Homo sapiens: one gene and its partner. Changing the gene in region 1 together with any one later gene gives a genetic interaction. Each region holds a gene or a part of one and is shown in the gene's direction. Other genes may lie near its edges.

Region 1 (3,500 bases):
ACTCATCCCAGATGCTTCGGGCGGTCTCCCTGGGTCAGGACCGCTACAGACGTCGCTACTGGGTATTGCCGTATTTGGCTGGTATCTTTGTAGAAGGAACAGAGGGGAACTTAGGTAGGTGTGCCTGTGGGAGTGTGGATTCTGAGTCCTATCAAACAAGAATTAAATAATTCCTTTTCCTTAGTAGTCTTGGGCTTCTTTCATTTTCTGATAATATAGCGTAATGGTTAAGAGCACAGATTTTAGAGTAAAGCTGCCTACCCACCTGCTCTGCCATTTCCAGCTGTATGATTCTGTTTCTTCATTTGTGAAGTTGAGATAATAATAGTGTATGTACTTCATAAGGCTACTGAGAGGATTAAAATGAGTTAAGTCTCTTAGAATAATACTTAACCCGTAGTTGTTTCGCAATAAATGTTAGCTTATGATTGTGCTGCTGCTGCTGATTACTTGGGAGAATAGTGTTTCTTCCCCAGATACTGTGTTCATTGGCATATAAGCTCTTCCCAGTGGAATCTCAAAAAAGGGGGACTAAGTCCAAGAGAAAAAGAAAGTATAGGTCCTAAGTTTATATACCCTCTTACTTTTCCCTTGTATGTCAGCATATGGCTTAACTCTTTACTTCTCTTTACAGTTCCTGAGGAGGTGATAAAGAAGGAAACTGACTCCTTAAAAGTGGCAGCCCATGCGTCACTCAACCCTGCCCTCTTCTCTATGAAGATGGAGTTAGCTGGCTCCAACACCACTGCCAGTTCTCCTGCCCGGGCCCGAGGCCGACCTCGAAAAACTAAGCCCGGGTCTATGCAACCTAGGCATCTTAAGTCCCCTGTCAGGGGTCAGGATTCAGAACAGCCCCAGGCCCAGCTTCAGCCTGAGGCTCAGCTTCATGCTCCTGCCCAGCCCCAGCCTCAGCTTCAGCTTCAGCTTCAGTCCCATAAGGGGTTCCTGGAGCAAGAAGGCTCCCCTTTGTCACTGGGTCAGAGCCAGCATGACCTCAGCCAGTCAGCCTTCCTGTCTTGGCTGAGCCAGACTCAGAGCCATAGCTCCCTGTTGAGCAGCTCAGTCCTCACACCTGATAGCAGTCCGGGAAAACTAGACCCAGCTCCATCACAACCCCCGGAGGAGCCAGAGCCTGATGAGGCAGAATCCAGCCCTGATCCTCAAGCACTCTGGTTTAACATCTCAGCCCAGATGCCCTGCAATGCTGCCCCCACACCGCCCCCTGCAGTTTCTGAGGACCAACCCACTCCCTCCCCTCAGCAGCTTGCCTCCTCCAAGCCAGTAAGTAGCCAGAATTAGTAGTATGCACTTGATTTCATCTTGCCACAGGCACCATTGCCTGGGTGTGGAGCTGCTGCCTGAAGTTGAGGGAACCTATAAACATGAAAACATCCTCATTTCCTTATGTCTCATTTTATTCACAGATGAATAGACCTAGTGCTGCCAACCCTTGTTCTCCAGTGCAGTTCTCTTCCACGCCCTTGGCTGGGTTGGCCCCTAAGAGGCGAGCAGGAGACCCTGGAGAAATGCCACAGAGTCCCACAGGGCTGGGACAGCCCAAACGGAGAGGGAGACCTCCCAGTAAGTTCTTCAAACAGATGGAACAGCGTTACCTAACCCAGCTGACAGCCCAGCCTGTCCCACCTGGTGAGTGACCTTGGAGTGAGGGCATCCGGTGTGGGCAGTGCTTCACAGCTGGCGCCCCACATATATCTCATCTGCTCACAGAGATGTGCTCAGGCTGGTGGTGGATACGAGATCCTGAGATGTTGGATGCCATGCTCAAGGCCCTACACCCCCGAGGTATCCGGGAGAAGGCACTTCACAAACACCTTAACAAGCACAGGGACTTCTTGCAGGAAGTCTGCCTGCGGCCCTCAGCTGGTAAATACATTCCTACACCCAGCTTGAGCTGAAGAGCCCAGGATAAGCATTGAGCTGCTGCTAGGGACAACAGCCTGATGGGCCTCTCCCTCTGCCACCTCTCTTCTCAGACCCCATCTTTGAGCCCAGGCAACTACCTGCCTTTCAAGAAGGGATTATGAGCTGGTCCCCCAAAGAGAAGACATACGAGACAGACCTAGCAGTGCTTCAATGGGTAGAGGAGCTGGAGCAGCGGGTTATCATGTCTGATCTGCAGATTCGGGTATGCTGGGATTGGCACTGTGTAGGAAGGTTGGGGAAAAGCATTAGTCCCTTATGCCCTGTTAGAAAAAACCCTGGGTCCCTACTTCACAGGTGACCTACCTTAAGTGGGTCTTGTTTTTGTTTTTTTTTTTCCTATGCCAAATTTTCCTCCTTTTACAGTGAGTTTTATTCCTCTCTCTTAACTGAAGGGCTGGACATGTCCTAGCCCAGACTCTACCCGTGAAGACTTGGCCTACTGTGAGCACCTCTCCGACTCCCAGGAGGATATCACCTGGCGAGGTCGGGGCAGGGAGGGACTGGCACCTCAGCGTAAAACTACCAACCCTTTGGACCTGGCTGTGATGCGGCTGGCTGCCCTGGAACAGAATGTAGAACGGCGGTACCTGCGGGAGCCCCTCTGGCCAACTCATGAGGTTGTGCTGGAGAAGGCCCTGCTTAGCACACCTAATGGTGCCCCTGAGGGCACCACTACAGAGATGTGAGTGACTCCCACCCTCCATTCTTGGTCTTGGAGAGAAAGGGATAAGTTCCCTCTTTAGTGGATCCGCTCCTTCTCCAAAGATCACCACTTTCTCCCTCCAGATCATATGAGATCACCCCTCGCATTCGTGTCTGGCGCCAGACCCTCGAGCGGTGCCGGAGCGCAGCCCAGGTGTGCTTGTGCCTGGGCCAGCTGGAGAGGTCCATTGCCTGGGAGAAGTCTGTCAACAAAGTGGTAAGAGGCTGAGAGAGCCTGGAGAGGCTGAGGGGCCAGCCAGCAGGGGCGGGGTGGGGTCACTGGCAGGTAGAGGCTGGAGAGCTCATTCTGCCTCCTCACAACCTTGGTCCAGACATGTCTAGTCTGCCGGAAGGGTGACAATGATGAGTTTCTTCTGCTTTGTGATGGGTGTGACCGTGGCTGCCACATTTACTGCCATCGTCCCAAGATGGAGGCTGTCCCAGAAGGAGATTGGTTCTGTACTGTCTGTTTGGCTCAGGTAAGGCTTCTGCTCTTTCTTTCCCACACTCAAACAGAAATCAGAGATTATCCTCAATCTCTCCTCTCCTTGGAAAGAGTCCTAGACTGGGTATTAGGGGACCTGGGTTCTAAGTCCTTTTTTGGACAAGTCACTTAAATTCTATAGCTTTAATTGCTGTCTCTATAAAATGAGAATAACTATACCTTCCCTTTTACCTACTTCATTGGGTTATGTGAATAAACCAATGCCGGCTTATGCATGATAGTATTTTGAAGCCTTAAATCATATTTAGGCAGAGATTGTAGTAGGGCAAGCAGTGCATCTCCAGCTGTTGCTAATCTCACCTGTTTCCTATACTAAGCAGGTGGAGGGAGAATTCACTCAGAAGCCTGG
Region 2 (3,500 bases), on another chromosome or scaffold:
AGTAGGCCTTATTATAAAGTTCTGGTTGTTGTGCTTCCCTCTTGCCATTTTCTTTAATAGTGCAAATTCAGCTTGGCATCCTCTGTGATGTCTGGATGATTTTTTTTTTTTTTTTCTGGAACATAGCTTTACATTGTTTGACTATTGCCCATCCTTTGAGAGTCTGCTGTAGATGTAGCAGACAAGAAATTAAAGCCGCCGGTTGCAGTGGCTCACGCCTGTAATCCCCAGCACTTTGGGAGGCTGAGGCAGGCGGATCACAAGGTCAGGAGTTGAAGACCAGCCTGACCAATATGGTGAAACCCGGTCTCTACTAAAAATAGAAAAATTAGCCAGGCATGGTGGCGTGCGCCTGTAATCCCAGCTACTCAGGAGGCTGAAGCAGGAGAACCCTGGAGGCGGAGGTTGCAGTGAGCTGAGATCGAGCCATCGCACTACAGCCTGGGCAACAGAGAGACTCCGTCTCAAAAAATAAAATAAAACGAAATAATCAAAGCCGGGAAAAGTAATAGAGAAATGTACACAGTATTGTTGCTTTTACGGAAAGTTCAAGGATAAAGTAACGATGTTGGTTAATGCCATTAAAGACATACTGGTGATGTTCTGCTGGCACAGCAGCTCAATTAAAACTAAATAATAGTCACTTAAATTTTCAAATTTTTTTTCAACTAAATGAAACCACTAAAAGGTAGAGATCATTTTACCAAAACCCAGGTGGAGTATATGCAGAGAATTTAGTCTAGGAGATCTGTTGGGAATGGTTGAGTTACAGGAAGCTGTTGAGAACTGGAAGCAAAATGAGTATACCCAGGGAAATGAATAAAGCTTTTTGTTTTCCACCATGCTATTTGGTTTTAGTGTTGAGCCATCAGTCAGAATTAATTTTTCCTTCTAAAACATTTGCTGCTGCCTTCAGCTTGTTCCTCATTCTTGGTGCTGAATCTGTCAGTAGGAATGTATCTCCACAATGACGTGGTAAATGCAGATGAGCGTGGCCTGAGGCATGTGCAATATTTAGACATCTGTTGAATGATGTGATGCAAGTTATTTTAGGTAATTTCATTAAAGATACCTAATCTCTCTGTTTCTGTTAAATTTTTTTTTTTAACAAGCCAAGCTCCAGGACTGTGATAAGTAAACACTGAATTTAGACCATTAAGATTAAATGTTACATATAACATTTTCATTATGACTGAAATCATTTCAGTTTATATTACTGATGGGCTCAGAGGCCACATCATGGTATTCACTTTGGTTAAATTGTAAAATGGTTTTCTTTAGAAGGGAATACGGGCTCTAATGGTCATGATACATGTTTTCTTTTTCTTTTTTTCTAACAGAAAGCGTGGATACCCATCAACGAAGTTTTGATATTGGAATTCAGATTGGCTATCAGCGACGCAATAAGGATGTGTTGGCTTGGGTTAAAAAACGCAGAAGAACTATTCGTCGAGAAGATTTGATCAGCTTCCTGTGTGGAAAAGTTCCTCCACCACGAAACTCTAGAGCTCCCCCAAGACTGACTGTAGTGTCCCCTAACCGAGCTACTTCAACGGAAACTAGCTCATCTGTAGAGACTGATTTGCAACCCTTCCGGGAAGCCATAGCTCTGCATGGTAAAGCCGTTTAAACATATTTCTTTGGAAAAATGGTTAAGAGGGTGCCTGTGGACCCATTTTTCACGGTTAGGTTTAGGTCCAGATATACTGTTTTTTGTCTTACAGTAAACAGCTTGCTCTAGAAATGTTTAATAGAATGTAAGCTAAGAACTTAATATGGGCGATTTCTGTCAGCTAACCTATCCTAGAAAATGTTTTTAGAAAGTTAGTTTGAGCTTATTGGTGTTAAAATGACATATCTTTCTGCAGTGTTGATTAGAATTTATCGCTTTACACTTATGTGTTGTACGTGTTTTTTTCCTCTTCTGAAGTCAAAGAGGAAGTTCTTGTGTCTTAAGAATTCTGTTATATTTCTAATGGTCCATGACAGGCAAGTAAGGTGGGAAATTGTTGGGTTAGTTCTCATGGGACCTGGGACCTCCCTTGACACCTTTCTTACTTGGTTTGCTGTAGATGGTGGGAGAGGATGGATGTAAGACTTGACCTTCTGCCTGTCGTCCCTCAGGTCCCTTGCACTTTAAGAGGCAGGACCAGCAGAGTGCAGCCAGTGGGCAGGTGGATCTCTATCTCCCCAGGCCAGACCTGTCATAAGAAGGCACTCTTGGCTAAGGGATTTTAGTATTGCTGGAGAAACCCGGGAAATGTAGTCAGTGATAAGTCTGTTGTTGCTTGTTGCTGTCTAATACAGACTTCCAAATAGAGCTGGGAGAGTTAACCTGTGTGACAGCATTGAATACTGCTGTAGGAAAAAAAGCAACAGAATAATAAGACTTGCTTGAAACCATGATGGAAAGATGGATCACGCAGATGGCTAAGCAGGTAGAAGTAATTAGGTCATGAATCCTTTTTTTCTTTTTTTTTTTTTTTTGGAGACGGAGTTTCGCTCTTGTGGCCCAGGCTGGAGTGCATTGGCGCGATATTGGCTCACCGCGACCTCTACCTCTGGGTTCAAGCGATTCTCCTGCCTCAGCCTCCCGAGTAGCTGGGATTACAGGCATGTGCCACCACGCCGGCTAATTTTTTAGAGACAGGGTTTCACCGTGTTGGTCAGGCTGGTCTCGAACTCCCAACCTCAGGTGATCCGCCCACCTTGGCCTCCCAAAGTGTTGGGATTACAGGTGTGAGCCACTGCGCCTGGCCATGAGTCTTGTTGAAAGTTAACATTTTTGGGCCATAGTACAGGTCATCTAAAACAAAGTAACCTGGTAAGGTACTAAGAAATAGTGGCATATAAAGAAACTTTATAGACGTTGAATCATTGAGACTTTATAATACCTGTAGAGATCTTGTTCTCTCTGGCAAACCGTAGTTCTTTCCTGAAACCCCAATGTTGTTTTTTCCCTTGATAGTGTTTAGGACAATTAAAAACAAAAACATGAATTGCAGGAAAGTTCAGGTTGTGTGGATGCAGTACTTTAAGACTGCACACTGTTCCTGACACAGTGGAATAGTTAGGCTGTCAGAACTTTGGAAGCTCAGGCAAAAATGGGATTGATCTGTTTATGCTGAATTAGAGAGTTTCACATCTTTCCCCCTAAAGTTTGGGAAAACAATTAACTAGAGGTGTACATAGTTTGTTAGATTAATTTTAGCGCATGGTAATATTTGATGCAGTTGTCTCTCCTTAAGTATTGTGATTTTCTTCCTTTATTAAGAGGGTTGTGGGTCATTCCATGCTTCTCTTAAGGTATCTTTTTACTCTGTTTTACTGTTATATTTTAGAAGATAGTTTTAAGAAACATAAAAACCATGCTTGTTATCTTAACGTAGTAGTAGTGTACATAATAGTAAAAAGGGCAAGCCAGCCCCCTCTGCCCTCGAAAAACTGTATTCTCCAACTCCCACTACATTTTCTCATATTGAATCTGTTCCACCTGTGAT

The links. Genes that interact genetically often act in the same process or in processes that back each other up.
Region 2: changes in BAZ2A (region 1) and HAPSTR1 together harm fitness less than expected from each alone (positive genetic interaction), as found in Homo sapiens cells (one large-scale study listed by BioGRID).

Annotation. Positions count from the first base shown.
Region 1 is NC_000012.12:56,599,327-56,602,826, reverse strand, and holds part of BAZ2A (bromodomain adjacent to zinc finger domain protein 2A), read left to right. Parts: coding exon 1-114; intron 115-634; coding exon 635-1,281; intron 1,282-1,424; coding exon 1,425-1,647; intron 1,648-1,728; coding exon 1,729-1,884; intron 1,885-1,994; coding exon 1,995-2,146; intron 2,147-2,336; coding exon 2,337-2,626; intron 2,627-2,709; coding exon of another isoform or gene 2,710-2,730; coding exon 2,731-2,863; intron 2,864-2,978; coding exon 2,979-3,125; intron 3,126-3,468; coding exon 3,469-3,500. UniProt on the Homo sapiens protein: Regulatory subunit of the ATP-dependent NoRC-1 and NoRC-5 ISWI chromatin remodeling complexes, which form ordered nucleosome arrays on chromatin and facilitate access to DNA during DNA-templated processes such as DNA replication, transcription, and repair.
Region 2 is NC_000016.10:9,101,644-9,105,143, forward strand, and holds part of HAPSTR1 (HUWE1-associated protein modifying stress responses 1), read left to right. Parts: intron 1-1,340; coding exon 1,341-1,616; exon of another isoform or gene 1,617-3,500. UniProt on the Homo sapiens protein: Acts as a central player within a network of stress response pathways promoting cellular adaptability. The E3 ligase HUWE1 assists HAPSTR1 in controlling stress signaling and in turn, HUWE1 feeds back to promote the degradation of HAPSTR1.